Linked DNA regions of Homo sapiens. The main gene of each other region encodes a partner of the protein of the gene in region 2 in a complex. Each region holds a gene or a part of one and is shown on either strand. Other genes may lie near its edges. The genes, in order: ANKS6 and ANKS3. A codon is read from its position in the direction of its gene.

The links.
Region 1: the proteins of ANKS3 (region 2) and ANKS6 are in contact, whole or in part, in a crystal structure (PDB 4NL9), measured with the Homo sapiens proteins. Residues at the interface, in NP_597707.1 of Homo sapiens: Lys441 (codon at 7,769), Tyr442 (codon at 7,766), Thr470 (codon at 7,682), Leu471 (codon at 7,569), Phe472 (codon at 7,566), Gly473 (codon at 7,563), Pro474 (codon at 7,560), Arg476 (codon at 7,554), Lys477 (codon at 7,551), Arg484 (codon at 7,530); in NP_775822.3 of Homo sapiens: Glu796, Gln797, Glu798, Val799, Asp800, Glu802, Ala803, Thr806, Leu807, Asp811, Glu814, Leu815.

Annotation. Positions count from the first base shown.
Region 1 is NC_000009.12:98,790,382-98,805,703, forward strand, and holds the start of ANKS6 (ankyrin repeat and SAM domain-containing protein 6), read right to left. Parts: upstream 6,175-15,322; 5' UTR 6,111-6,174; coding exon 5,752-6,110; intron 226-5,751; coding exon 1-225.
Region 2 is NC_000016.10:4,691,372-4,706,092, forward strand, and holds the end of ANKS3 (ankyrin repeat and SAM domain-containing protein 3), read right to left. Parts: intron 13,883-14,721; coding exon 13,724-13,882; intron 10,872-13,723; coding exon 10,731-10,871; intron 10,173-10,730; coding exon 10,063-10,172; intron 9,764-10,062; coding exon 9,599-9,763; intron 7,806-9,598; coding exon 7,681-7,805; intron 7,571-7,680; coding exon 7,429-7,570; intron 7,229-7,428; coding exon 7,056-7,228; intron 6,692-7,055; coding exon 6,606-6,691; intron 6,046-6,605; coding exon 5,962-6,045; intron 5,734-5,961; coding exon 5,657-5,733; 3' UTR 5,646-5,656; intron 5,526-5,645; 3' UTR 5,140-5,525; downstream 1-5,139. Other genes in the region: NUDT16L1 (tudor-interacting repair regulator protein), read left to right, coding at 2,314-2,508, 2,607-3,197. UniProt on the Homo sapiens protein: May be involved in vasopressin signaling in the kidney.

The DNA.
Region 1 (15,322 bases), on a different chromosome or scaffold from region 2:
AGGGCTGTGATGTCCAAGGGCTCATCCCTGCTGCCGCCCAACCCCAGTTGCTCGCCTGAAGGGTGGTGATGGTCCACAAAGGCACCGGCTTCCAGGAGCAGCTTCACCACACCCAGGTGGCCGCCCCGAGAAGCCACAGTGAGCACACTGGCCCCCAGCCGGTTCTGGGCATTGACATCAGCCCCGTGATCCAACAGGAGGTGTGCCACACTCACATGCCCAAATCTGCCAGGAAGATGGAGAATTAGTGACACTGAACACACAGCACTCGGGGGCCAGCTTATGTCATCCTTAATTGGCATGAATTATTAGTCCTGACAGCTGCTCATGATAAGAGGTCTTATTCTGGCGCCAGGCACTGTGCCAGCCACATGGATGCAGATGCATCATCATGAAGGTGAGCAGCTGCCCTGCCTGGGTTCAAATCCAGCTCTCCCCACCACCAGCTGCATGACCTTTAGGAAGAACTTTGATTTCTTTGTGCCTTCATTTCCTGATCTGCAAAATGGGGATATAACTGTACCTACTTCAAGGGTTGTTGGGGATTAAATGAGTTACATGTAAAGCACCTGGCTCTGTGCCTGGCCACAGGAAACATCACATCAATGTTAGCGATTGTTAGGTATTATAATTGTTCATGTTACGTTATTCAACGTGCCAAGGGTTACCCGGCTGGTAAGGGGTGGCATCAGGGTCAGGACAGGTCTGTGTGAATGCCGCTGCCCTTGCTTTTTCTCTTACACCATGCTGCCTCCTACATTTCAGACAGTCGATTTTATTCTGCTTTATAGCCTGGGAATCTGTCTCTCTGCCTGTGCTCTAATTTCCCCACAGGCAGAGCCCATGTCTGATTCATTTCTACCCTCCCCATCCCCAAAAGCACACACCCCATGCCAAGAGGTGTGGCAAGGTTGTGGTCAGCAGATAGGCTGGGCATTGCGGCCTGGAGGCCTGCTGCCACCTGCTGGCAGGAATGTTTGTTGCAGGCGGCTGAGGACCCAGCCTAGGCCAGATCTTCCTCAATGAAGTCACTGCTGGGCCCCTGAAGAGAAAGATCTGCACCCACCAACTTCCTAGTACCAGGAGAAGGAAAACAGGTACCTCTTCCCAGCAAAATCTCTTCCTTCTTTTAACACCAGAGGGCAGAAAAGTTCTGTTTTGTGGTGTCTCTGGTGGGCTCGGAGCTGTGTATCTCCAAGCTGGAAGCGGCCCTGGACTAACAAGAAAACAATGACAAGACAGGGGCTGTCTACTCCAGGTTTTCGAGACCACAAAGCCACTGTCATGTCTGCATCTGTGAGGCAGCTTTCTGGGTTTCTCGATGCTCAGCCCTCCTTCCCGGGAGCCAGTTTTGCACCTCATCTAAACCCAAGACCTCCCTCCTCCTGGCGGCTGGCGGCCAGGCCAGGGCTGAACTCTGTCTGAGGCTCCGGCTGAATACCTTCTGGGATGTGAACCTGAACAGCATGGGGCTACTCAGCCACGAAGCAAGAGCCTGGTGACACAGCTCCATCAGCTGCAGGGGGCTGGGCCTCTTGACCTCCACTCCCAGAGTGGAAAAGGACAAGGCAAATTGAAACCAACTCAATGCAGAAAGCTGCACCCCAATGTCTCCCCGCCTCCAGTCTCGTTCCCTCCTGCCCATCCTCCATGCGACTCCCAAATGATATTCTCCAAACCCAAATCTGTCACTCCCCAGCTTCTGATTGCCGAAGACCTGACTGCTTTGCCAACCTCACTTCCTCCTGCTCCCAAACCACACCTTCCCGCCTTCCCCACACCTTCACCATCCTGACCCCACCAGAGGACTCTCCTGTCCTCATCTACTCAGCACACCCCCACCGTGTCCTGCTTCAGGAGTCATATCTCACCCACTCTGAGCAGCTTCCAGACCACCCCTCAACCAGGCTAGGTCAGTGCCCCTCTTCTGAGCACCTAATTCCACGGGCTCGCCTCTGGCTGCACGTGAGCCCTCTTTCCCTAATTGTCTCTCCTATTCAGTGGCAGGCTCTCCAAGGACAGGACAGGGTTCCACGCATATTGTTTCCCCAGCCCCTACCATAGTGGCTGATCCACATCGGAGCTCAGTAAATTTGGTCAAACAAGCCAAGTAAATGAATGCATAAATGGCATAACCACATAGGGGAAGGTCCAGAGGTGAGCAGTGGAAATCCCTGAAGAACTGGTGTATCCTCCACTGTAGTACATTTCTAAAAGATTACACTATTTAGTTATCAAGCATGAGATAAAATCTAGCATAATCCCTAACAGCAGATTACAAGGTGCGTCACATTTTTATCTCATTTGATCTTAATAAACCCCGAGATAAACTCACAGATTAGGAAACTGAAGATTACAGTGGAAAGCAATTAATCTAAAGCCTCTCAATTTGAACGTGATAGAGTCAAAAGTTGCACCTGGACTCAAAATCGAAGCTCCAGTATAACCAATTTTTAAGGAGGAAGAAAAGGGGTGAATTAGAGCAGAAATAGTGAAATTTGGAATGTTTTCTGAATTAGTGAGTAGCCCAAGAGAGCACTCAACTATGCTGAAAATATAAAAGGATCCAAGCAAGGCTGAGATAATGTTGTGGATGCTAAGTTTCTAATAGGTAACTGCCGGAGATGGGCATGCTAGGGGCTTTCTGAACAGGTGCTGTGATTACTGATGAATTTCAGCAATTAACACCTGTGTTTAAAGAGCTGGCACACATTTTCCCCTCTCAAAGCACTGGGCTGAGAGTCCAGCTCTGCCCCACTGGCAGGCAGGAAATGAAGGGTAGGGAAGGAAGGTAAACACTATGCAACCCTGTCCCTTGGAGAGAAGTCTCTGGCAAATTTGGCAAGCCGCTTCCAGGCACCAACACCAAGAGGGAAACTATCAGTTACAGGATTCATGGCTGGGAGCACAGGCTCTGGAGCCACCTCCCTAGGTGTGAATCTGACTCGCCACTTGGTAGCTATGTTACTTGAGCAAGTTATTTAACTTCTCTGTTCCTCAATTCCTCATTTATGAAATGAGGATGACAATAGTACCTCCTTCCTAAGGTTTTGTATGGATTGAATGACTTAATTCATTTAAAGCACTTAGCACAGTGCTTGACAGAAAGTCAGTGCTCAATAAAGGTTGTTTTTTGTTTTGTTTTGTTCTGGTTTTTTGAGATGGAGTCTCGCTCTGTCGCCAGGCTGGAGTGCAGTGGCGCGATCTCAGCTTACTGCAACCTCCGCCTCCCAGGTTCAAGCGATTCTCCTGCCTCAGCCTCCCGAGTAGCTGGGACTACAGGTGCGTGCCACCATGCCCGTGCCACCACGCCCAGCTAATTTTTGTATTTTTAGTAGAGACAGGGTTTCACTATGTTGGCCAGGCTGGTCTCGATCTCCTGACCTCCTGATCTGCCCGCCTCGGCCTCCCAAAGTGCTGGGATTACAGGCGTGAGCCACCGCACCTGGCCAAAGGTTACCTATTATTTTAAGAACATGAAAAAACATGCCCCAGCGCGGTGGCTCACGCCTGTAATCGCAGCACTTTGGGAGGCCGAGGTGGGCGTTTCACGAAATCAGGAGATTGAGACCAGCCTGGCCAACACAGTGAAACCCGGTCTCTACTAAAAATACAAAAAGTAGCTGGGCGTGGTGGCACGTGACTGTAATCCCAGCTACTCCGGAGGCTGAGACAGGAGAATCGCTTGAACCCAGGAGGCGGAGGTTGCAGTGAGTCGAGATCACGCCACTGCACTCCAGCCTGGTGACAGAGCGAGACTCCGTCTCAAAAAAAAAAAAAAAAAGAACAGGAAAAAACACTAAGGTCACCATTTCTAATACTAAAACACCCACAAAAGACCAAAGGCACAGGGTGTCTAATAGTCTGGCCTGATCCACACAGAGAGCTGGGACGATAAATAGATGCTTGCTCAGACCCAGCGTGGTGGCTGCCAGGGGTGTGGTTTTGAGCAGGATTCTGGGGGCGTATCCAGATCCAAGGAAGAAGAGCACAAGGCTGGAAGGTGTCAGCACACAGGCCATTCATTTGCCTACCCCGATGTGAGGGACAGACACACTGTACATCCTTCTGGAAGTCTTCCATATATACTACTCCTCAACTTGACCTTTTCTTATGAATTACGCAGCAGAAAGCTGGAGCACAACTCAACACAGGCAGAGATGCTACCTGAATATAGAGTCGGTGTCACACCAACTGAGGAACAGCACATTTTAAAATACCCAGGCTCAAGACTATCCTGCAGAACTTGGTTAAAACTGATGATCTGGGGTCTCTGAGACACTCTGAGGCATGTCAGTGCTGTAGTCACAAACCTCACTCAGTAAATTCCTCAGGGGGCTCACCAGGGCCCCTGTGCACGCACTTGGTGGATTGCAGAGATGAGACACACATAACACATCAGTGGCTCCCAAACCTACCATACAAGAGAATCACTGGGGAGCCTCTTCTCACACAGAGTCCCTGTCTCTTACTCCCCTCACTGCCCTGGGCCTTCTAAATCACAATCTCCAGAAAAGGAACTCAGGAATCTGCACTTAGACAAGCATCCTGGTGATTCTGATGTGTGGCCAGGTTTGGGTACTGAGGAAGCCAGTCAGCATTAACATGGTGTGATGGATGCTACCACAGAGGCCTTTCTGCTGCGGAGGGACCAGAGAACAGGGAGATATCATGGCAGGCTTCACAGAAGCCAGATCTCTAGATGCCATCCTTGCTGTCTCTCTTAACCCCTCCCCAAGGGCCAGTCGTCAACTCCTGCTGATCTACTCCCTGAATATATCACAAATTCATCTGGGTGCCCTCCCTCCGCTGTCTCCATTCTGGTCTAGGCCACCATCACCTCTCACTCAGACTGCAGCAAACTCTACCTAACCAGCCTTTTTGACTCTAGCTTACCCTAGAGTATCTAATCTATTCTCACACTTCAAGGAAAGTAATTTTTCCAAAACGTAACTCTCATCCTGTCACTCATTCTGCCTAGAACCTTCCATGACTCCCTAGCACCTTCCATGACTCCCTAGCACCCTAGGATAGCTAGCGTTTCTCAGCTCCCACACTCCCCCAACTCCCTGGCATCTGCCTTCTCTCCAGGGAGGACTAGTACATCATTCTACTCATACATTCTACGCATACCTCATTCTACCAGTCCTACCAGCTCGTGCACCCAAGCCTTTGCATGGGCCTCCCATCATGCCTTCCCACAGCCCACTTGTAATGTCCTGGCTAATTCTCAGGTATCCGCAGGTCTCCACGTGGATATAAACATCTTTTCTACCAGAAACCTTCCCCCACGTCTCCAAAATGGGTCACCTGCCCCACAGCTACTCAAACCTTTCCGGTCAAGCTCGTTCCTTTGCCTGGCCTGCCCACCAATGCCCTGGGTGGGGACTCTGCCTGGGTCTCGCAGCACCCTCAACGCCAAGCCAGGAAGGGAAGGCAGGTTCTGAGGAAACTCTTACTGCAATAAGAAATGAATTAAATCTCTAAGGTTCTAAGTCTCTACAATTCTATTCGCTGTCTCCAGATTCTATTCTGAAAGGCCAAAATTTCTAAGAATCTGATTTTATGTTAATTCAAAAGTGTTTCCACGTCTATGCTCAAAGTTTACAAAAGACTACTCAAAGTTTACCATTCCAACTCTAAGGAGTCCTTAACTCTTCACCTCCCGGGGCATCCGGCCGCCGGGGACCGCGTCTCGGGCCAGCGCCGGGCACCACTCTGGTCCCGGGCCCCCGGGCCCCGCCGCCTCACCTGGCCGCCTGCATGAGCGCGCTCCAGCCGTAGTGGTTGCGGCTGTTGACCGAGGCACCGCGGCGCAGCAGGAAGCGCACCAGCGGTTCGTGGCCCCCGGCCGCGGCGAACTGCAGTGCGGTGTTGCCCGCCTCGTCCGAGCAATCCACGGGCACCGGAGCCCCGACTGCCCCCGCCGCTGCGGCCCCGGGCCCGGCCACCTCGGCCCCCGCCGGCTCCGCGCCCGCCTCCGGCTCCGCGCCGCGCTCGGCTGGCTCCGCCGCCCCCGGCTCCAGCAGCCGCCGCGCCGTCTCCGTGTCGCCCTGGTCACACGCGCGCAGCAGCAGCTGGAAGGCCGGGGGCAGCCCGCCCTCGCCCATCGCCGCCGCCACGCGCGGCCCGCTCCCGTCCGCCCCGCCGGCCGCGTCGGCTCCGCCCCCGGATACCGCCCGCAGGCGCCCCCTTCCGGCCACCCGCCCGCGCCGCGCGCCTACTGTGTGCCGGGAGCGCGCCGGGGCTAGGGCCGCGCGCCTGCTGTGTGCCGGGAGCGCGCTAGGGCCGGGGCTGCGCACCTCCAGTGCCCGTATTCGGGAGTCCAGGGACGCTCAGAGGAGCGCCCGCCGCAGACCCGCGTGTTCCCTTTTGCCTCTTCGGCGCCCTCTCGCCGCCCTGTCCCGGGGCTCCAGAAACTTCCTGTCAGGGCAGAGGTGGGAGCGGCCACGCCATCCCCTCTTCACGCTGTGGTCAGGGCCCTGGGCCCGGGTCTGAGTCCGCAGCTGCGTGGGCCTTGACTTTACTAGCGGGCTCCGCTGACCCCACCGCAGCCCCTGGCACTGAACCTGCCCTTCTAGAATAAGGAAGCGGCTGAATTAAGGAACGAACGGATTGTTTCCTCACAGTGTCCTGCGGTGCCCTTAATGTCGCTCCTTCATCTGGGCCAGGCTGCTGGGGCTAAAAGCGCCTCCTGTTCTCTCTCTCTCCCCCACCTTTTATTTCAACTATTATTATAGATTAAAGGGTACAGGTTTGTTACATGGGTAAATTGTTACATGGGTAAATTGCGCGACGCTGAAGCTTGTGGTCCCAACGATCCCGTCACCCAGGCAGTAAGCATAATACCCACCAAGAGGTTCTTCAGCCCAGAGTCCCCTCCATCCCTCCCTGGCCTAGCGATCCCCAGCGTTTGTTGTTCCCATCTTTGTGTCCATGTGTACTCAATGTTTAGCTCCCACTTATAAGTGAGAACATGCAGTATTTGGTTTTCTGTTCTTTTTAGGTCGCTTAGGATAATGGCCTCCAGCTTTATCCATGTTGCTGCAAAGGGCATGATTTCGTTCATTCTTATGGCTGCATAGTATTCCGTAGTATTCCATCATATTCTATCGTGTATATGCACCACATTTCTTTCATTCCTTCCCTCTCTTCCCTCCCTCCCTCCCTATCCCCCTTCCTTCCTCCCTCCCTCCCTCCCTTTCTCCCTCTCTCTCTCTCTCTCTCTCTCTCTTTTGACAGGGTCTTGCTCTGTCATCCAGGCTGGAGTGCAATGGTGCAATCTCTACTCACCACAACCTCTGCCTCCCAGGCTCAAGCAATCCTCCCACCTCAGCCTACCGAGTAGCTAGGACTGCAGGCAAGTGCCACCACACCCGGCTAATTTTTTGTATTTTTGGTTGAGAAAGGGTTTTACCATGTTGTCCGGCTGGTCTCAAAGTCCTGAGCTCAAGTGATTCACCTGCTGTGGCCTCCCAAAGTGCCAGGATTACAGGTGTGAGCCATCACATCTGGCTCTGTACCACATGTTCTTTATCCAATCTACTGTTGATGGGCACTTAGGTTGATTCCATACCCTTGCTATTGTAAATGGCACTGCAATGAATATACAGGTGTCTTTTTGATAGAATGAATTATTTTCCTTTGGGTATATACCTGGTAGTAGGTTTGCTGGGTCAAATAGTTCTATTTTAAGTTCTTTGAGAAATCTCCAAACTGCTTTCCACGGTGGCTGAACTAGTTTGCATTCCCACCAACAGTGTATTTTCTCCACAGCCTTAGCAGCACCTATTGTTTTTTGACTTTTTAATAATTGACATTCTGACTGGTGTAGATGATATCTCATTGTGGTTTTGATTTGCATTTCTCTGATGATTAATGATGTTGCGCATTTGTTTCATATGTTTGTTGGCTGCCTGTATGTCTTCTTTTGAGAAGTGTCTGTTCATGCCCTTTGCAGAGACACAACGAAAAAAAGAAAACTTCAGGCCAATATTCCTGAAAAACATAGCTGCAAAAATCCTCAATGACATACTACAAACAGAATCCAGCAGCACATCAAAAAGTCAATTCACCATGATCAAGTAGGCTTTATTTCTGGAATGCAAGGTTGGCTCAACATGCGCAAATCAATACATGTGATTCACCATATAAACAGAATCAAAAACAAAAACCATATAATCATCTCAATAGATGCAGAAAAGGCCTTCAATAAAATCCAACATCCCTTTATAATAAAAATCTTCAAAACAGATTAGGCATTGAAGGAACATACCTCAAAATAATAACAGCCATCTATGACAAACCCATAGCCAACATCATATTAAACAGGCAAAAGCTGGAAGAAGACTCTCACCACTCCTATTCAACATAGTACTGGAAGTCCTAGCCAGACAACCAGGTAAGAGAAAGAAATAAAAGGCATTCAAATAGGAAAAGAAAAAGTCGAACACTCTGTCTTTGCGGAGAGTATGAATCTATACATAGAAAACCCTACAGAGTTTGCCAAAAGGCTCCTGGAAATGATAAACAAATTCAGTAAAGTTTCAGGACAGAAAATCAATGTATAAAAAGCAATAGCAGTTTGATATGCCAATAACATTCTAGCTGAGAACAAAATTAAGAACACAACCTCATTTACAATGGTCACAAAGAAAATGAAATACCTTCTCTCTCTTTATCAGCGGTCCTTGAAGTGTGTCCCACACAGCAGTAGCACCATCACCAGCTGCAACACTGTTACAAACGCAGATTTTTCTGGCCCTACCCAAGATCTACTGAATCAGAAATTCTGGGTGTGGGTTCAGCAACCTATATTTTAACAAGCCCTCTGGGTGATTCTGATGCATGCTAAAGTTGGAGACCCACGTTTGATCTTCATTGCACGCCTGCCATCCACCGGGGAGGGCCCAGATGATCATCCCTAGGTTGCAGAGGAGGCAACCGAGGCACAAAGAGGTTGTGTCTTGCCAAAGACTCCACAACTATTCTGCAGGAGAGCTGTGAGTAGGACTCAGGTCTTCTGACATCGAGTCCAACTCTCTTTCCATTTTCAACAAATATGTATTGAGTGCCTGCCATTTCCAGACACTGTTTTAGGTGCTGGAAAAGCTGCAGGATTTAGTACAAGGTTCTTCTGTAGCTCACAGATCCATGAGAGCCTGAGAACCAGTTCTGGAGGCCCCAAAGCCAGGAACAATGACCCAAATCTCATGCCGCAGCTGCACCCTGTAGGAAGATGGGGTTGGTTCAGGCCCTTTTTGGTGTTCCTGGCTTCAGATTCAGAGGCTGAGGTGACAGTGCCTGACTGGCCCAACTTGGGTCATGTGCTCATATAATAGCGGGAGGTAGTTTCTGCTTCAGAAGGTAGGGCACTCCCAAATGTAGGAAGGGGGTTCAGATGCTGGGCAGTCAAAAACGATAACAAGTGTTTGCTATGAAATATTCCCTCTGGACACCCTTTTTCTTTTGGGAAGCCTTTCTTCCCTACTCACAGTCTGTGTGCTTCAGTGGTTAGCACATATCCTGATTGGCTTCAGCCCAGGACTTTTTTTTTTTTGAGACGGAGTCCCACTCTCTCTCCCAGGCTGAGGTTCAGCGGCACAATTGCACCCCACAAACTGCAACCTCTGTCTCCTGGGTTCAAGTGATTCTCTGCGTTAGCCTCCCGAGTAGCTGGGATTACAGGCACCCACCACCATGCCCGGCTAATTTTTGTATTTTTAGTAGGTACGGGGTTTCACCACGTTGTCCAGGCTGGCCTCAAACTCCTGACCTCAAGTGATCTTCCTCCCTCAGCCTCCCAAAGTGCTGGGATTACAGGCATGAGCCACTGTGCCCAGCCCAGCCCAGGATTTTTGCTAAAGCAATTGAGAATGAGGCCCTCTCTGCTGAGGTTGCCAGCTATCAGGATGTCAGCCAAACTGGTGCTCACTTTGCCACCACTTGAAGACAGCCTGCCTAAGAGTGAAGTCACCACAAAAGAAAGCAAAACCAAGTGATAGAAAGAGACTAAGTTAGAAAATCCCTCCCCACATTCTTTTTGGTGAGGTTTATTTTGAGCAGCATTGTTGTCACTTGCATTCCAAGCCTTAACAAATGGATAATTTACTTTTTTTGTAAATGAATGGGTTCATACTACGCATGCTATTCTTGAATCTTGCTTTTTTTTTTCTTTTTCCATTAACAAATGTCTTGGGCACCTTTCCATGTAGGTAAATACAGACTGCTGCATTTTAAAAAAATGATTGCGGCCCGGCGATGTGGCTCATACCTGTAATCAATCCTAGCACTTTGGGAGGCTGAGGCAGTCGGATTGCCTGAGCTCAGGAGTTTGAAACCAGCCTGGGCAACACGGTGAAACCCTGTCTCTACTAAAAATACAAAAAAATTAGCCAGGCATGGTGGCATGTGCCTGTAGTCCCAGCTACTTGGGAGGCTGAGGCAGAAGAATTGCTTGAACCTGGGAGGTGGAGGTTGCAGTGAGCCGAGATCACACCACTGCACTCCAGCCTGAGCGACAGAGCGAGACTCCATCTCCAAAAAAATTTTAATAAATAAATAAATGATAGCATGAAACACCATTCAGCAGACGTACCATAATTTATTTAATCATTTAATTTTTATTTCTATTTTATATTTTTTGAAATGGAGTCTCACTCTGTCATCCAGGCTAGAGTGCAGTGGTGCAATCTTGGCTCACTGAAACCTCTGCCTCCTGAGTTCAAGCGATTCTCCTGCCTTAGTCTATGGAGTAGCTGGGATCACAGATGCCCGCCACCACACCAAGCTAATTTTTGTATTTTTAGTAGAGACGGGGTTTTGCCATGTTGGCCAGGCTGGTCTTGAACTCCTGACCTCAAGTGATCCACCCGCCTCGGCCTCCCAAAGTGCTGGGATTACAGGCATGAACCACTGTTCCCAGCCCATTTAATCATTTTAGAATAAGGCACAGTTGAGGCCGAGTATGGCGGTTCATGCCTGTAATCCCAGCACTTTGGGAGGTTAAGGGGGGTGGATTGCTTGAGACCAGGAGTTCAAGACCAGCCTGGCCAACATGGTGAAATCCCATCTCTAATACAAAAAAAAATAGCCAGGTGTGGTGGCACATGCCTGTAATCCCAGCTACCTAGGTGGCCGAGGCACGAGAATCGCTTGAACCTGAGAGGCAGAGGTTACAGTGAGCTGAGACTGCACCACTGTACTCCAGCCTGGGTGACAGAGCAAGACTCTCAAACAAACAAACAAACAAACAAACAGAAACAAGCACAGTTAGCTTGTTTCCAGTTTTCTGCTCTTATAAAAAATACTGCATTGGACAGCGCTTGTAGCAGCCAGGGTCCCACCAGGAAACAGATGGCACACTTGGCTGAGGAGCTGGGGAATGCTTACTAAAGGACCATTTACAGAAGTATAGGCAGGATTTACTAAGAGCCACAAGGGATGGTGCAGTACTCCAGGGCTGGTAATAGTACAGAGCTGTTACCATCCCAGGCCTGAAGGGGAAAAGGGGAGAGCAGGTACTGGAATTCTGCAAGAGAGAAAAATTGCAGAGACCTACCTGATAGGAGCTACAGCCTTTGGTAGAGGGACAGAGCCAACCCACAGCAACTCAGTAGGGAGCTATCCTCAGAGGAATAAAAACCTCTGACCTCACTCTCCTCCTGCCCTCTGATCTCCTGCCAGTGCTCCTCATTAGTAAACCCTACTGGAAGCTAGAGTCTTGGAGCCTGCTGATATAGTTCATGCAGTCAGCCTTCCAGGGCACAGAACAGGGTGAAGAGAAACAGCAGGGACAAATGGACGATGTCTAGCACCTTGCTGCTCAATCTGGGGTTCTTGGACCAGCAGCACTGGTATCACCAGGGAGCTTGTTAGAAATGTGGCATCTTGGGCCCACACCAGACCTGCTTAACCAGATCTAGCATTTCAACAGGATCCCCAGGTGACTCACCATACCATACATTAAAGTTTGTGAAGCACAGATCCAGCACATCTTTCTATGCAAGTATAGCTATAGCCTTATTGTTTATGAATTCTCTTCCAGCCTTTTTTTTTTTCCATTGGTCCCTGTGTTGGTTTGGATCCTCTAAGAATCAGATGCCTAGATGTTTGTTTGTTTGTTTGTTTTCTGGGAAAAATACCTACAAAGGACAAAGAGGGAAAGTGTGTAATCCCAGCATTTTGGGAGGCCGAGATGGGTGGACCACTTGAGGTCAGGAGTTTGAGACCAGCCTGGCCAACATGGTGAAACCCCATCTATACTACAATACCAAAAAAATTAGCCAGGTGTGGTGGTGCGTGCCTTTAATCCCAGCTACTTGGTAGGCTGAGGCATGAGAATCGCTGGAACCTGGGAGGCGGAGGTTGCAGTGAGCAGAGATCACACCTCTGCACTCCAGCCTGGGCGACAGAGTGAGACTCCGTCTCAAAAAAAAAAAAAAAAAAAAGAGGGAAAGGGGAAAGTCGGGGAAAAGGGATGGGGAGCCCTCAGACCATGATGCAGGTCTGATACTTGAGAAAGGAGAATGGGAAGTGACGAGGGAAAGTCTCAGCCAGGCAGATGGGGGATTCCCAAGCACGGGTTGTGTCCTATATCATGCAGATGTGGCCAGGTTCTGGTACCACACCATGCTCGGTCACTGACTGGGAGTAGCCAGAGGATACCACAAAGGATCCAAAGGCATAGCCACTGGGAGCTGGCAGTCAACCGTGTTTCCCCTAAAAGTTTCTCCCAAAGGGTAATCTGAGCAATGCACCTCATTTCCAACACAATTCCTTTCAACCAACTTTTTTAAATTAAAATTTTTTCTTAATTTTGAATTTTTTAGGCATGGTATCTTGCTTTATTGCCCAGGCTGGAGTGTAGAGGCTATTCACAGACACCATCGTGGTGCACTGCAGCTTCAAATTCCTGGGCTCCAGTGATCTTTCTGCCTCAGCCTCCTGAGTAGCTGGGACTATAGGTGTGTGCCACGGTACCAGGCTCAGCCAGCATTTACTAAATACCTTCTGTGTGCTAGGCATTATGTGTGTTGAATGATAGAAACATGGCCTCATGGCTCCCAGGAAATCCCACATGACTGCAGAACAGTGGGGTCTATGAGTTTTCATCGTCAATTCAAAGGAAGATGTCACAGTTTGGAGGATGCCACTGACAGCTTCATGGCAGAGCTTGGCTACAAGTTGGGCAGAAATGATGGGTGGGGTCTAGGTCGTTGTAGGAAAAAGGAGGAAACATATTGGAAGGAGAGAGCAGGGGGACAGGAGGACCACAGACTGACAGAGTGGATTAGGCAGGAGATAAGGAAGGCTTAGAAGTAAAATAATCTCGAAAGAGTACAATATTTACTTTAAATGTCTTTTTTTTCCTAATAAGGTAACGATTGTTTTAAAGAATTCTGATGTTGTAGAAATATAGAATGTAAACTCCTTGAGATCAATGGCTTTGGATATTGTTTACCTCAAATCCCCAGAATCTAGCACACTGACTCCCAGATGGTAGGTGATCAATAAATATTTGTTGAAAAAAAAACAAATAAATGGAACAAAAGTGAAAGGACCACAGAATCTCACCCATCAGAAGTAAATATAATATAGTTAATGGTTTGGTAAATATTCCTTTAGATTTTTTCCCCTTTCATATGTTAATATATATTATTTTACAAAAATAGGATCATACTATTCATATAGCTCCACGACTTGCTTCTCTTTTCTTTACAATGCATCTTGAACACATGTGTATGTTAAATGCCTACAACTAACTCATGCTTGCAAATAGCACTGTGGTATATTATGGTATTGTACGGATGTGCAATATTTTATTTTATAATCTCTTGATGGAAATTTGGATTGTTTCCAACTTTTTGCTTTTATATACAATACTGCCATAAGCTTCCTTGTATGCATATCTTTTGAGCACTTACGAGTCTATGTTTGTTGGATAGATTCCTAGATGTGGAATTGCAAAATCAAAAAGATGTTAATATTAACATTTCTAATAAATGTTGCCTAATTGCTTTCCAAAAGGTTATACTAGTTTGCATTCCTACCAACAGTGGATGAGAGTGTTTTTTCACATCCTTGCCAACACTGGAATTAATAGCCATTTTCATTTTTGCCAGTCTGATAGGTGAAAAAATATTTCAGGGTAGGTTTATTTTGTATGTATTTTAGAGAGATCGAGCATATTTTCATACTTTTATAAACTATTTATATCCTTTTGGGTGGGAACTGTCTATTTAAATCCTTTGACCATTTTTATTTCTGTTTGTTCTCTTTATTTCCCTATTGATTCACATACTGGGTAAATGTCATCTGCAAATATCTCTTTCTGACTTGCCTTTTGTTTCTGGACTTTGTATTATACTGGAAGCCTTACAGAATTCAAAATTTTTATATAGTCACATTTAGAAATATTTTCCATATGGTCTCTGGTTTTTCTCATTCAATACTTTTATAATTAAATTCCTTCCCTTCCCTTCCTTCCTTCCTTCCTTTTTTTGCTTATTTACTGTGGCATCTTCAGATCATTTGGAATTTATTTTGATGTAAAGTGTGATGTTGGGACTTGATTTGAATTTTTTCCAAATGGTTATCAAGTTGTCCCAATTATTACTTGAATTAGGCACATGTTCCCCACTAATATTTGAAATACCACATCTACCATAGATCATATTAAACTCTAAAAGGAATGTAATAACTCCTATGAAGAGAGCTAATATGACAAATTAAAAGCATCTTCTAGAGATATCTACTTGTTGGTGAGCAGCCGATGACATAACATGGTACTGTTAGTGAACAGATAAGCCCCCTAAAAATAGCAATAAACCCAAGGGCTTTACCTCTGTTGAAAAGATGCTAGATTTCCAACAAGCTCCCAGGTGGTACCAATGCTTCTGGTCTAAATATCATACTTCACTCAGCAAGGTGCTGGACATCTTCCCTTTGCCTTACTGACACTCTCTCCACTCTGTTTTGTGCCCCGGGAGGCTGACTGTGCAGACTGTATCACTCAATCTTCTCAACAACCCTGTTCAGGTGGTGCTATCATTAGATCACCATTTAATAGATGAGCAAATTGAGCCGAGATAAGTAAAGCAACTTGCCTGAGGTCACACTGCAATTCGTGATGGGGCTGGGTTGAGCTCAGGCAAGTGGGCTCCAAGGTTGTGTTCCGACCTCCTAAGCTAAGCTGCCTTTGCATCTCATTGCAGCCTGCCCAACAGTGAGTGGTGTGGTGGGAAATCCTGGACTGTGAGTCAGGAGACCCAGATACAAATCCTCCCTCTACCGCTTGCATGTTGTGTAACCTTGGGCAAGT
Region 2 (14,721 bases):
GGGCGCCTGCCTTCCAGGCAGTGAGATGCCCAGCAGCTAATCAGAATCCTGCCAGGTTTGGTTACTATTAGGAAGAAAGTCAGCATGGTGGTGAGATGAACCCGTACAAGGTCTCATTTAACCGGGTGGCAGGGAGGGCCTCTCTGAGGAGACTTAAACAGCCCTGAGGGCTGAGGAGGAGCTGGCCCTGGAAGAGTGTTCCAGGTGGCAGGAGTGAGCCTGATGTGTCCCCTGGGGACGGAGCCCCTGGCTGGAGTGAAGGGTGCTGGATAGATACTGAAGAGCTTGTAGGGGCTGCTGGAGTGTTTTTATAAGGGGGAGTCAGTTTTAAAAACAGGCTTCCAAGCGGAGAAGCAGTGCTAGCACCCTGCGGCTGGCGTGTGGAGGCCGGACGGTGGGAGCAGGTCTAGCTGCCCATGGTTGTGGGCTCGCAGGCTGGAGCCCGGCCCCAGGCCTCTGCACAGCCCCCGCTCCCCTGCCCAGGGAGTGGCCAGTGCCCCAGGGCACCCACCACACCACTGCCTACCACTCAGGGCCCCAGCTCCTTTGCGTGCAGGTCAAGCTGCCACCATGGCCCTTCTTTGAAGACTGTGAGGGTGGAGGGAAAGCCCGTGTTCTAGCCCATCAGTCCCTGCCCCGAGAAGGCTGCCACCCATGGGCCCTGCAGCTGCTCTGACCTGCCTGGGTCTGGCCCCATCCCAGTGTGGGTAGAGGGGTGCCCAGGGTGTCAGACGGGTGCTTGCATGGGCCAGATGGGCTCCCCCTCTGTACCTCCCAGAAGAGCCAGCGCTTGTATTGATGTCTGGTCTCGGGGAGGGGCTGCAGCAAGGGGAGCCTCTCCTCCTCTGCCCCTGCGTCCCACGGGCCCTGGGCGCTGGCTGGGCTTGGCTGCCTAGGGGTGGGGCCCTCTTTGGGTGAGAGGACCCTTCCCCTCGCTGCCCTCTCGCCTTCTCACATGGTCGCTCACTCTGGAATCTGGACTTCCCCTGCTGCTTGCAGCTGTCCCATGTGACCCCTGACCCACTGGTGGCCACAGGAGGAGAGAGAGGTGCCCTCTCTGGGTCCTTATTCTCCACATCTGAGGCCACCACGGACCTAACAGGTGAGTTTCCAATGCCCACCCTCTCCCTCTCTCTTCTCCTGCCTGCCTCCACTGAAGGCAGCCTTCTCTGTGCCAGCGAGCTCGGCCTCACTGCACGGCTCTCCCGAGGCTGTGCCCCAGCCCTGGGCACCCATGCTGTGAGTGCAGGCAGGGGGGTTCATGTGCTCAGCAAATCCATTCCCCTGGTGGGGAGGAAAGTGGCCCTGGGCCCTGCTGCTGGTGAGGTGAGCCTTGCCATCATGGAGTTCAGGGCACCTCGCTCTGCCTTGGGCTGTTTCGGATGCTTCTGAGCCCCAGAGACATCTCCAGTACAAACACAAGGTAAGTGGTAAGTACCTCAGGCCCTTGTGGAATCGGGATTCTGCCTCTGTCATCAACTGCCAGTTGTACTTAGGCAAGTTATGTCCCTCTCTGAGCTCCAAGTTCCTCATCGTAAATTGGGGAAACCCCTCTTCCCCCCACAGTACCTGGCACAGGGTGCCCGGCTTGGAGGATGCTGGAAAGGTCCAGCCCCGGAATTTAAGTCACTTTCTGCCCAGCAAGCTGGGTCCACAGAGCCCCAGAGCTCCCGGTCGTCCGCCCTGACCCAGCGTGGACTCGGGGACTGGGGCACTCAAGCCCTGCCAAGCCCTGCTCCCCGTGCTGTCCTGGATCGAGCCTGCCAGCAGGGTGGCTAGGTCGGGACAGCTGTCGTGCATGGCAGGCGAAGGCCATCTCCCTCCGGGCTTGGGTCCGGTGGCGCTGGCGGAGCAAGGCTCCGGGGCATCTCTGGCTCGTGTGGTCGTGCCAAGGGTGCCATTGCGGATGGACGGGGCCATGCGGGCCGGGTCGGCCTCCTGGGGAGAAACGGGTGGGCGCAAGGGGATCGGCGCCATCGAGGGTGGAGAAACCGCAGGGAATTTCGGCTGTCCGCTTTGGGGCGCCAAGGAAGATGTTCGTCGCCCACAATGTCAACCTTGAGCCACCACGGCACCGACCAGTCGTCTAGGCTCTCCCGTCGGAGGCGGGGCCGCCGCCCAGGGTGTGCGACTATTGGGTGACGGCTGACGCGCACCGCCCTCCTTTGCACACCGCCCGCAGCACCTCTCGACGACGCACCGCGGCGCTGCGAGGGGCTCGGTCCCGGGGCGCGCCGGCGATTGGCGGGGGAACCGGACCCGGGGGCGCGGCCGCCCGCGGATTGGCGAGGCACGGCGGGGGCGGGCTCGCGCATGCTCTTAAGTGGCAGCGGCGGGGACGGGGTCAGTGCCAAGATGTCGACGGCGGCGGTTCCGGAGCTGAAGCAGATCAGCCGGGTGGAGGCGATGCGCCTAGGGCCGGGCTGGAGCCACTCGTGCCACGCCATGCTGTACGCCGCCAACCCTGGGCAGCTCTTCGGCCGCATCCCCATGCGCTTCTCGGTGCTGGTGAGGACGGGCGAGGGCGCGGGCGAGGGTGCCGGCGCGGGCGGGCCCGGGCGGGGGCGTCCGTCGACCCCGCGGCTGTGACCCGCGCTCCCTTGCAGATGCAGATGCGTTTCGACGGGCTGCTGGGCTTCCCCGGGGGCTTCGTGGACCGGCGCTTCTGGTCGCTGGAGGACGGCCTGAACCGGGTGCTGGGCCTGGGCCTGGGCTGCCTGCGCCTCACCGAGGCCGACTACCTGAGCTCGCACCTGACCGAGGGCCCACACCGCGTCGTGGCGCACCTGTACGCGCGGCAGCTGACGCTGGAGCAGCTGCACGCCGTGGAGATCAGCGCGGTGCACTCGCGCGACCACGGCCTGGAGGTGGGGCCGCCGCCCGGGCCCCGCCCCCCGCCCCGGGGTTTGGCTCTGGCCCCGTGGAAGGCACCGATGGGTAACACGTCTCCTGAGGGTCCCCTGGCCGGGCTGGGTCGGGTGTCGCTGTCTCCAGCAATGGGGTGGGGAGAGGGGTCTGGGGCTGGGAGGCCGGGAAAGGAGGGGCGGGGGTGGGGGCCGGCGCTGGGGCTCCCTCAGGGCTGTGTTACATCCGCCTTGCTGCCTGCCATTGCCAATCCTGGGAGTGGGGGAGTGGGATCGGTGGGGAGGAAGGGATGGGGGAGGAGCGGGGATTGCTTGGGGAGTTGGGAAACTTGAGCACAGCGGGGGTTGTAAAACTTGGGAACCTCATGTTGGGCGTGAAGGCTCTTGGGATTTGTACTTTGTGGTCTGGAAGGGCTGGACTGCGGGTGTTCAGGCTTCGTTGGGTGGACGGGGGGAGCATGGGGTGCGGACCCCGGGGTGGGGTGGCCTGGGTACGAGGGGGGGGAGTGCATGGGGTCAGCCTCCACACTTGCTTGGGGAGGAGGGGGCTGCACTGCTCCGAGGGAGCTGGCTGGCTTCTGCCAGGCCCTGCGTGGGTCTCCCATTAAGTCCTTGGCAAAGCTGGCTGCTCATACCCTGGCCTCATAGCTTCCAGGCCCCTCCTGCTGGAGGTGCCATTGTGTGGCAGGCCTGGCCCCAACCCCTACCTCCTGTCTGCGCAGGTGCTGGGCCTCGTGCGGGTCCCGCTGTACACCCAGAAGGACCGAGTCGGAGGCTTCCCCAACTTCCTGAGCAACGCCTTCGTGAGCACGGCTAAGTGCCAGCTCCTCTTTGCCCTCAAGGTGCTCAACATGATGCCCGAGGAGAAGCTGGTTGAGGCCCTGGCTGCAGCCACCGAGAAGCAGAAGAAGGCCCTGGAGAAGTTGCTCCCGGCCTCCTCTTGAGGGCTGCCTGAGCTGGTGGCACCCTCCCCTGGGCCGGAAGACTGGGAATTCCTGCTAAGTGTGGCTTCTAGAGTGTTTGTGTGTACCCCGCTTCTGACTGCCTAGGGCGAGTGGGCATCCTGTCATCATCTCCACTGTCCCAAGCAGTCACTAGGTGGCGGCCGGGCCAGCTGGAACCCAGCCCATCCTCTCAGGCAGAGCAGGGTGGTCCGGGCACACTGGGCCTGCCTCTCCAGCCTCAGGATGCTCTTGTTTATTCTGGGCTCAGACCCTCCTCTTGTACGTCTCATCACAGCTGGTAGAGACCCAGGAGTGCCTGATTGTCCCACAGGGGTGGCGCACAGCTCTGGGACCACTCAGAAGATGGGATGTGTGGGTGGAGGATGCCTTGTCTCGGTCAGCTCATTCCTGCCTCCTTCCTGAGCCAGTTCAGGGCCTGGGGGAGAGCCAGCTTGGGGTAGGAAGTTAATAATACTGTTAATTTGGGTTGTTGTTGGATTTACTTTGCTAGATTTTCTCTTTCACCACGTGTGAACTGTGGGTGAGGTTTCAAAGTAGCTTCACCCCACGTGGCTTGGTTCCCAGGGACAGTCAGGGCCTCGGGGGCCCAGCTATGTACAACGAAGCTGTCGAAGGAGAAGACAATAAAGTCGCTCCGCAGCTGCTCTGTGTGTTTCTCAGCTGCCCTGTGTGTTTGTTTTGGTTCTGGATGGAACCAGCTCAGGCCCCCTGCCCTAGGTGGGGGAGGGAGGAGCTGCCCCAGCCAGGGGCACGTTTGTTCCCCAGTGTTTACTGGGGGCACTCCCAGCATGAATGCTGTGCCCATCAGCCAGGTTGGGGCGTCTGGGCCGAGACCTTCAGGGCAGGCTCCCCTTCCTGATCCTGGTGGCCCTGGCTGCACCTGGGCTGACCTGCTTTGCTTTGCAAACCCACCATTCCCCACTGTCTGCAAGCAGCTCCAGGGGATGGTGTAGAAGTGCAGGCTTACTGTGCAGAAGGACAGCAGCAGAGCCATCCCTCGTGGTCTCCTACAGCCCCACATCTGGAAAGACTCCAGCGGCATCGTCAGAAAATTTGCACAGCCCATGCCTGGCCCGGTGAGGGAGGCAGTGTGCCCAGCTCCATCTCAGAGCTCGGTGTGAGAGCAGCATGTCCCGGGGGAGGCCCTGTGCTACGGCGGGCTGGGGATGTTCTTGGCTCTCAAAGCCTTATCTTGAGTTGTCTGGGCTCCAGGAGCAAAAGACACACCCCTGAACAGCAGAGGACAGGGCAGTCAGGGTTGCTGCATTGGCCAGTGCCTCATGTCATGTGACCAGAACTGAGCCCTTCACTAGCTGTTCTTAAATTTTATTTTCCAAAAAATGGCATTTTCCAGGTGCCCCAGTCCTCATTCCTAAGGTCCCACCTCAGTTGGCACCTGTGCGTGTATATGGATACACTTTCCCCCCAGGGCCCTGCCTGGTATGGGCCAGGGCAGCCCATGAACTCTGGGCCTCACCACGAGGTTCTGGGTGAGGCCCTCGTCCCGCCTCAGTGCTGGCCCGAGCTGCCGAGCCAGGGCCGCAGCCCCCGTCTTGCCTCTGTCTGCCGGCTGCTCCCGGGGCCTGATCCTCTGGCCCCCACTGGGCCTGGGCTGCACATGGCAGCTACCTGCTCACTGTCCTCCTCACTCCCTGGCACACAGCTTCAGGGTGGACCAATCACCCAACGTCAGATTCTGAAAGAAAAAGCCCCGGTGAGAAGGGAGGGGGACAGGTGGGTGCATACCCACACCTGCAGCCGCCCAGACAGGCCCTGCTGCTCCCACCACGCGGGATCCAGGCTGGCAGACACTCACCGGCCCGCAGGCTAGGTCTCCCGCCACTTCTTCCCGTTCAGCACCTGCAGCTTCTCCAGGCTCTGGGTCACTAAGCACAGTGCTTGCCCTGAGGAATGATGACCTTGAGCCTCTCCCGGCCAGGCTCAGGAGGGCTGGGTGGTGCTGCCCCGGGGTCTCAGCTGCAGGATGTGACCTGCCCCTCACCCGTTATGGCCCCAGCCCCGAGGTCAGCCTTGGGGTAGAGAGACACAAACCCGCTTTCCCTGGAAAGGGGTCCCTTTGCCTCCCTCGGAAACAAAAGGAGCGCTCAGTCGTCTGGTCCCCGGAGACTCACCCATCTCACGGACACGGTCCTCCAGGGCTCCCGAGAGCTCGGGGAGGCTCATGGCCTGCAGGGACGCTTGCCAGCCCTTGGAGTCTGTGGTGCAGGTGCAGGGACCGAGTTAGCTGGGGGTCTGCGTCCCCACAGGCCCTGCTTTATTCTGAGCCCATGCAACCAGGAGAACCTGCTTGGATCAGAACCTCCCTACCCGCCTGACAGTGTCTAAGCAACCTCCCAAGGCCGAGGCAGGGAAGCCCTGTTGTGCCCTTCCTCCCACAGGCTGAGCAAACACTACGAGGCCCGGGTCAGCCCGAGAGAAGGCAAAGCTCTGCCGGTGGGGACCCGGGTCTGGGCCCTGGCTGGAGGCTACAGAAGTCACTGGCGGTCTCAGCACAGCACAGCCAGCCAAGGCACAGGGCCTTTCTCGAGTACCTCCTACCCCTGGGGGATAGGCAGTTTTCCTGTCACAGGTGAGGAAGTGGGCTTGGGTCCCCAGGGCCCCCTCTTTTCCTTGGACTCTGGGATCATGTGCACACAGGGACCTGGGAGAGTGGCTGCCGGCCGGAGAACCAGGCCAAGCCCACTGGGTCAAACCTGGCTTCAGGGCTCCCCCACCTTCCCCTCTGCCCAGTGCGGAGTCAGGCCACTGCTCTTACCAGCTGGGGGGACGGCTAGGCCCAGAGTGGCTGCACCAGGGGGCTGGTCCTGCCTCACTCGAGATGACAGCTCAGCTTGACAGGCTCTGCCAGACACAGAAACAAATATTGGTGAGAGCAGAGGCCTGGCCGCTGCAGAGCCCCCACCTCAGACCTTCTAGGGGAGGGAGGGGCTCAGCCCTGTCCTTGCAGCTGGCCCTCATGGGCTGGGCCAGTGCCCCATGAGGCTGCACTAAAGAGCAGGAGGGCGACCGGTGCAGATTCCCGGACCCAACTCCTGCCTGGGTCTGCCTGCAGGAAGGAAGGGCCTGATGAAATGGGGGTGGGGTGGCTCCAGACCCTGAAATCCACCCCTCAGTTACAAAATCAGGAGGAAAGGATGTGTGGGGGCCCAGGGGCCAGGTGGCTGACCACTGGAGACCCAGCCCAGGGCAGCTCAGAGCCACTCACCGCAGCTGGTCCAGGACGAGGGCAGCATCCCGGGCCAGGGCCCACGTCTCCCGCAGCCGGGCCTGGAGGTCCTCGCGGGCGCGGTCCTGCTCCAGCAGGCAGCTCTCCACCACGGCGCGCAGCTCCTGCTCCTGACACACCTGGCCCCGCGTGGCCTCTACCTCCTCGCAGCGCTGCAGGGGGGTGGGGGGCGCGGGGAGGCTGGGAGGTGGCCGGTCAAGCCAGACCCTTGGCCACGGCCCTGTCCTGTGTGTGGGGCCCTCTCCCCACTGCATCCACCTGACCCCTCCACACAGCACCCACCTTTTCTGTCAGAGATGGAGCCAACTCACGGGTGTCACCCTGCCCCCCCATCCCCCACCCAGCCACTCACCTTGTGCAGCTGGATGGCGAGCTCCTGCATCTCAGCCTCCAGCCGGTCGGCGTAGGCCAGCTCCAGGGCATCCCCGGGTGGGCGGGCACTGCTGTGCCAGCGGGCAATGGCGGACGTCATCTTCCTCTTGGGCCCAAACAGCCTGCGGGGGGAATGTGACCAGGATATGCCTCAGCGTCCCAAGAGCGCTTACATGAGTGGGAGTTTGCCCCAACCCCGGGCTGAGGGCCAGAGCGGCCCTTCTGGACGCACGTGATGCCAATTTCCTTCAGGTCGCTCTCAGTGAGGGTCAGAAAGATGCGGAGGTCCACGTCCTGCTCCTCAAACACCTGCAGGTACTTCAGACACCCGATCTGCTCCAGCAGTGCGGCAAGGTCCTGGCAGGCACAGGGGACAGGTTGGGGGAGGTAGTGGCTGACGACGAAGCAGAGACGTTTTCCTCCACTCGGAGCCCCACCACTTCCCCAGGCTCAGAACCAAGACAGTGCCTTGTGTGTGGCGCCCAGGCTGTCCCCTCCTACTCTGGTGGCTCAGGCAGGGCAGGATGTTGCAGGCAGGTGAGTCCTCACACTATGGTCGGCCACGTGGGGACAATGTATGTTCATCACCAGAAACTGGCCTCCTCCTCCCACACATGCTCAGTTCTGTGAAGGGACCATGGAGCTGCTGATCTCGACAATGCTTTGTAGGCGGAGAGCGCTGCCCTCTAATTCTAGAGTCTCAGTGTCGGATGTTCTGATTTCCACTTGTCTAAGCGCAGCTCTTCTCCGAGTTCACCTGTCTGGAGTTCACCGAGCTCCCTGGATGTAAGATCCGTGTTTCTGATCCACTGAGATGGTCAGGCTGTTTCTCACCCATCGTTTCTGCTCTCCTTCTGGAATGCCACTGTATGGGGTGGTGTCGGTGTGCTTGAGGGGATCACAGATTTCTGTTAATTTTTTTTACTCATTCTTTCTGTTCCTCAAGCGAGATGATCTCAGGTGACCTGTGTTCACAAGTTGTCTGACTCTTCTGCCTGCTCAATTCTGCTGTGAGCTCGTCTAGTGATATTTTCATTTCATTTACTTTTCAACTCCAGAAATCCTACTTTTGAGAGTTTATTGCTTTTAATGGACAAACAAATGTTACTCTGACATTTTCTTCAAGCTATTTTCTGAAAGAAACATACTTAGGACACTACCCTGACCAGACTCCACTCAACGTATGTTGAAGGGACCGAGACGTGTGCCTGCTCACTGAGCCAGGGGCTGCAGGGAGAAGCCGGCAAATCCAAGGCTCTACTGAACAGCAAAGCCAGTGCTTTAACAAATAACCAGCCAGGCCGGGCATGGCACCAGGCCAGGTGTGGTGGCTCACGCCTGTAATCCCAGCACTTTGGGAGGTCGAGGCGGGCGGATCACGATGTCAGGAATTTGAGACCAGCCTGGCCAACATAGTGAAATCCCGTCTCTACTAAAAATACAAAAAATTAGATGGGCATGGTGGCGGGTGCCTGTAATCCCAGCTACTTGGGAGGCTGAGGCAGGAGAATCGCTTGAACCCAGGAGGAGGAGGTTGCAGTGAGCCGAGATCGCGCCACTGCACTCCAGCCCAGATGACAGTGCGAGACTCCGTCTCGAACAAACAAACCAAATAACCAACCAGAGCTTCCCTCTGCCTCTCCTCTCCGTGCCTCTTCTGCCCACACAGGGTAGGAGAACTCAGCAGACACAGGTGAGACAGCTGAGCTGTGAGTCACACCTCTGATCCCTAAGGTAATGTGTGGTCAGAGGGACCACAGAAAGGAGGAGGATGGTGGCAGCTGTAACCATCACCAAGCACACACTGTGTGTAGTTCCTGTCTCTGCTTCAACCACATCTTGTCAGACTCCTGCAGGCAGCTCTGAGGTCAAGTGTGCTTTTCTTCTCCCCAGGCTCAGGGAGGCCAACTCCAGTATGGAAAGCAGGGAGACAGGTCCTTTCCGTGGAGAGGAACAGAGTAGAAGCGCTGCAGCGGGGCTGCCAGCCATGGAGCCGGCTGTGAGCCTGTGGAGCCTAACAGGCCATGGGGATGCCACCGCCATTCTGTTCTCCTAGCAGCGCCTGGCACGTCATATACACAACACATGCCTCCTAAGTCACAAAAAGTGCCGTCTCTGAGTGTAACCTCCAGTTTCACAAGCGGTCTTACCTGGGGTCCTGAGTAGGGGGCCCTCTGAGTCTGGGGGCTGGACTCAGCGAGAAAGCCTTCCCTGTCAGTTGCAGCGCGGGGAGGCCACTGGCTGTCAGGATTCTTGGTCTTCATGTAACTTTTAGCTTGTTTGCGAGCTGAGCTTTTACAGGCATGATCCGAGTCCTGCAGTGAGAGGCGTGCATCTGAAAGAGTGCGCGGGCTAACTTGAGAGCCTTGGTGAAACCCCCACCCGCCACACAGGGGCTTGAGAGGCTTCGTGAAACCCCCCACCCGCCACACAGGGGCTTCCGGTGCGTTCGCTGTCGTCTGAGAAGCCAGACCCTGGACACAGCACGTCCCAGTGCAGCACACACGTGCAGCAGCTGCTTCTTACATACATGCTCATCTTAAAGTAACTGGGGGATGTCAGGCATCCCAGCCAGGGACCGGCTATGGGAGACCAAGAAAGAAAGAATCCGTACCTCGTTGCTCTCCACAGAAGCTTCGCTGCTGAGCCCCTGGGCTCTGGCCAGGCCCTCGCTGCTGCTGCTGCTCTGGACGGGCCCCAGGTTGGCACAGAAAGCATGTTCCTCTGAGGGCGGGAAGACAGGGCGTCCGCCTGCAGCCCTCACCGAGGTGCTGCGCATGGGCGTGCCCCGGGCTGAGCCGCCTCCACCAGGGCACTCCTTGGGGCCTGCAGCGGTTGCTTCCTTATATTTCAAACTTCCTGCCTGTCCTAAACCCTCCCCTCTATACAGACGGGCAGGGCTTCTGTCTTTTTTGTTCACTGATAAATCCCAAGCACCCGGAGCAGTGCTTGGCACACGGTGGGCACTATGGAAACAGCTGCTGCACGGAGGTGCAGTTATAACAGACATTCCTACTGGGGCCTGCCCTGAAAGCCTCAGGGGCTCCCAAGCAAGGAGCTAAACCTGTTGCTGTGGAACGGCTCCCTTAAGCCGCACGGGGATGCTGGACCAGAAGCTTCTCCCATTCCTCACAAGAACCAGGGCCGTCCACACCTACCCCTTTCCTGTCCTCTGCTGGATGGCTGTGTCCAGCGCCAGGCCCAGGGGATAAGTGGGGATGGGCACACAGGAGCTCCAGGACCTGCCTGAGCCACGGGCCGGATGGGTGGGGGTGCACGTACCCCGACTGCTGCTGCTGCTGCTGCTCTCCACATCCCGCTCATTGATGGGGGAGGTGACATCCCGGCAGCAGAGGCCCTCTTCTTCCAGGGGGTTCTCGCCACTGCTGTTGAAGGTGACATAGCCACGGGGAGGAGCCTGCTCTGTGTACAGAATGGGGCCCATAAGCCCAGGGAACTCCAAAGTGAAACCTCCTCAGAGGCCGAGGCCCAGGATGGAGGCAGGTGACTTCCCAGTCATGACCTCACCTACTTGCCCCTGCGACCTGGCATGGCTCTATCTGTGGTGTGTGGGTGGAAAAGATGCTCTGAGGGTCAGTCAGTGGCCCAAGCAAGTGCCTGGTGGGGCGAGGGCTGGCAGCCAGGTCAAGCCTGGGCCCTCTCCATTTCTTTTCCAAGGGGAAAACGTAGCAAATGGTCAGCTGTATTTACAGATGCCTGACCAGAGAAAACTATACCATGAGTGTTCCTTTTAGCAGGAGGTAGCTAATGACCTCACACAGACACCCATCGACCACGTGTCTTTATGTCCCTGTGACCTTTAACCACAGGCGCTTAGCGGGCCTCCTCTGGTCAGTCAACCCCGGCGAAAAAGAGACCTGGCTGAGCAGGAAGGAAAAAGGCCTTGAGGTAAAAATTAACAACAATAATATGAAATTACCTAACTCTACCTGCCTCTAAAACCAAGCAGAAAAAGGGGCATGTATACCAGGCAATTTCACTCCAGTTTTGCCCCTTTACATAAAAAGACTGACTTGACCAGTCACGGTGGCACATGTCTGTAATCTCAGCTACTTGGGAGGCTGAGACAGGAGGATCGCTTGAGCTCAGGAACTGGAGCCTTCAGTGAGCTATGATCGTGCCACTGCACTCCAGCCTGGGCTACAGTGAAACCCTGTCTCAAAAAAGAACCCAAAGGACTGGTTGATGGGACCATGGGGAACTTACTTTCCTCTTTACGTATTTTCCTAGTTATGGAGAAGTTTTTCTAATCAGCACATGCTATTTATCATTGCCCCCTAAACTGTTTTTGAGACAGGGTCTTGCTGTGTTATCCAGACTGGAATGCAATGGCACCATCATGGGTCACTACAGCCTTGACCTCCTGGGCTCAAGCAATCCTTCCACCTCAGCCTCTCATGTAACTGGGGCTACAGGCATGGGCCACCATATCTGGCTAATTTTCAAAATTTTTTGTAGAGATAGGGTCTTGCTACATTGCCCAGGCTGGTCTCACAACTCCTGAGCCCAAGCAATCTTCCTACCTCAGCCTTCCAAAGTGCTGGGATTACAGGTATAAGCCACTGCACCTGGCCCCCCCAATTTTTTTTTTTTTTTTTTGAGACGGAGTCTTGCTCTGTCACCAGACTGGAGTGCAGTGGCACAATCTCGGCTCACTGCAACCTCCGCCTCCCGGGTTCAACCGATTCTCCTGCCTCAGCCTCCCGAGTAGCTGGGATTATAGGCACGTACTACCATGCCCAGCTAATTTTTGCATTTTTAGTAAAGATGGGATTTCACCATGTTGGCCAGGATGGTCTGGATCTCTTGATCCACCTGCCTCGGCCTCCCAAAGTGCTGGGATTACAGGCGTGAGCCACTGCGCCCGGCCCCAAATTTCTTAATTACTGGCAAATAAAATATATGCACTTATAGAAAATTTAAATTTCACAAGGTATGAGAAAACAAAAATCCCCTGAAATACCACACCTGAGACCACCACCATGATTACTTCTCTGTGGATACATACAAAGAACCGCACACAAGCGGCTTCAGACATGTATGATTTTGTTAAAGCATTTGTTGTACAGCTATATAGATTAATTACCAACTCAGCCCCAGGATGACAGCTTCCTTCCTGTCCCCACCACACCTCAGGCTGTAGCAGGTGGCAGGGACCTTTTGGAAGGAAGAGACTCTGCCACTCAGAACGACCAGCCCGGTGTCCCAGAGCCAGTGCTCACAGCTCAGCGGACGGGACACGGGCGGGCCCTCATGCTGTGGTGGGGCTGGCCAGCAGCTCGAGAGAGGCCTTCCCAGTGGCCCAGTCAGCTCACCCTTCCCAGGATGATGGGAGAAGGTGGGTCTCCAGTTCCCAACCCAGCACCCAGGCTTGGGAAGACAGAAGTCTGCACATCTGCTTGTTCCTGGGGTCTAGAAGGGAATTCAATTACTGGTGGACCCCTGGCTGAAACACTGTCTACTCTCACTCTTCCAAGTCCTGGCCTCAAAGAGGCCTTGCTCCCGAGAAGGACCAGCCACCAGGCCTGTGAGACCAGCAGCCTTGGCCTGGCTATGAGTGGGTGACAGCCATCAAAGGAAGACATAACTCACACCTCCAGCTGAGCTCTGGGACAGACCACAGCAATAGAGAGTAGGCACCAAACCCAACTCCCCTAAAAAGAAACCCCAGCACTCCCCAAGAGCAAAACGCTCAACACCCTGGGGCTGGGAATCTGAGAATGAACGAGACTGGAAAACCCAAAGGCTAGGATTCTTCACCAGCAAGTCAACAAGCGGGCCCTCTCTCAGGAGGGTCTGAGTACAACTTCATCGCCCTGAGAAAACAGCAGGGCCTGTTTTCTTGGCCTCCTGCCCCCAGCAGCGCACCCGACCCAGCTGGTATGGGCAGGGCAGGGAAGTGAACTTCACGCTTTGCCTCCTCCCTGTATGAGCCAACCCACCTATGTGATGAATGAAATCTGACCTTAGCTACATTTCTGCTGCAGGAGAGAAAGTTCTATTCCTAAATTTAACCAACGAAAAGGAAACTCCAGGAGATAAAGCAAAAAACAAGAGCTAGTCCGTGACCAATGCATTTCCATCACAGGACTCAATCCTGAGTCTCCCTGAGCATGAAAGCTGGGCCACCTGTCCCGCTGCCACCTGAGGTCCAGCGACCCACATTTCAGGAGCCTAAGAGCTATTCCATTCTTGCCAACACAAAATCCTGGTATGCAATGAGAAAGAGCCCTCGGGAAACGCGGGCCACTCACCATAGCGAGGCCGTGGGGCTCTGCCGCCCAGGCCAATGCCTGTGATCCTGGCCAGGGCTCGCGGTCCCTCGTGGATGCTGACACCCTTCTTCCGGCAAGGCCTCTGTCTCTGAGGAGCAGGGCAGGACTCGTCAGAAGAGCTCAGATCTTCGTACTTTTCTGTGATCAAACACCAAGATTAAGATAGTGTGTTCAGTAATGGACTCATTTACTAATCCTTACGGCAAACTGAAAGAAAGTGACTGTCGCCGGTTTTGTTAAATTAAGGAGAAGGGTATCTGCCAGGGCATCACTTCTGAGAAATGCCCTAACAGGCCGGGGCGCTGCTCCAATGGGCCACAGGGAGCTGCAAAGTTAGTGAGGATGGGAAGTTTCATTTTTCTTGAGACAGAGTCTCACTCTGTCCCCCGAGCTGAAGTGTAATGGCATGATCTTGGCTCACTCACTGCAACCTCCGCCTCCTGGGTTCTAGCGATTCTCACGCCTCACCCTTCCAAGTAGCTGCGGTTACAGATGCGTGCCACCATGCCCAGTGTTTTTTTTCTTTTCTTTTTCAGTAGACACAGGCTTTTGCCATGTTGGCCAGGCTGGTCTCAAACTCCTGATCTGCCTGCCTTGGCCTCCCAAAGTGCTGGGATTACAGGCATGAGCCACCATGCCCAGCCAGGAGTTTATTATCTCTGTTGGGGTTTGCCAAATTGTTCATAAGTCTGTATTGTTCATAATCAGAAATTCTGTTCTAATTTGAATAAGTAAAACCCATCTCTTCATTAAAATATATGGTAATATAAGTCACAACTACTTTTTCCTAATCCCTTCCTTTGGAAACAACTTTTTTTTTTTTCTTTTGAGAAGGAGTTTTGCTCTTGCTGCCCAGGCTGGAACTTCCGCCTCCTGGGTTCAAGCAATTCTCCTATCTCAGCCTCCCGAGTAGTTGGGAATTATAGGCAGATGCCACCATACCCAGCTAATTTTTATATTTTAGTAGAGATGGGGTT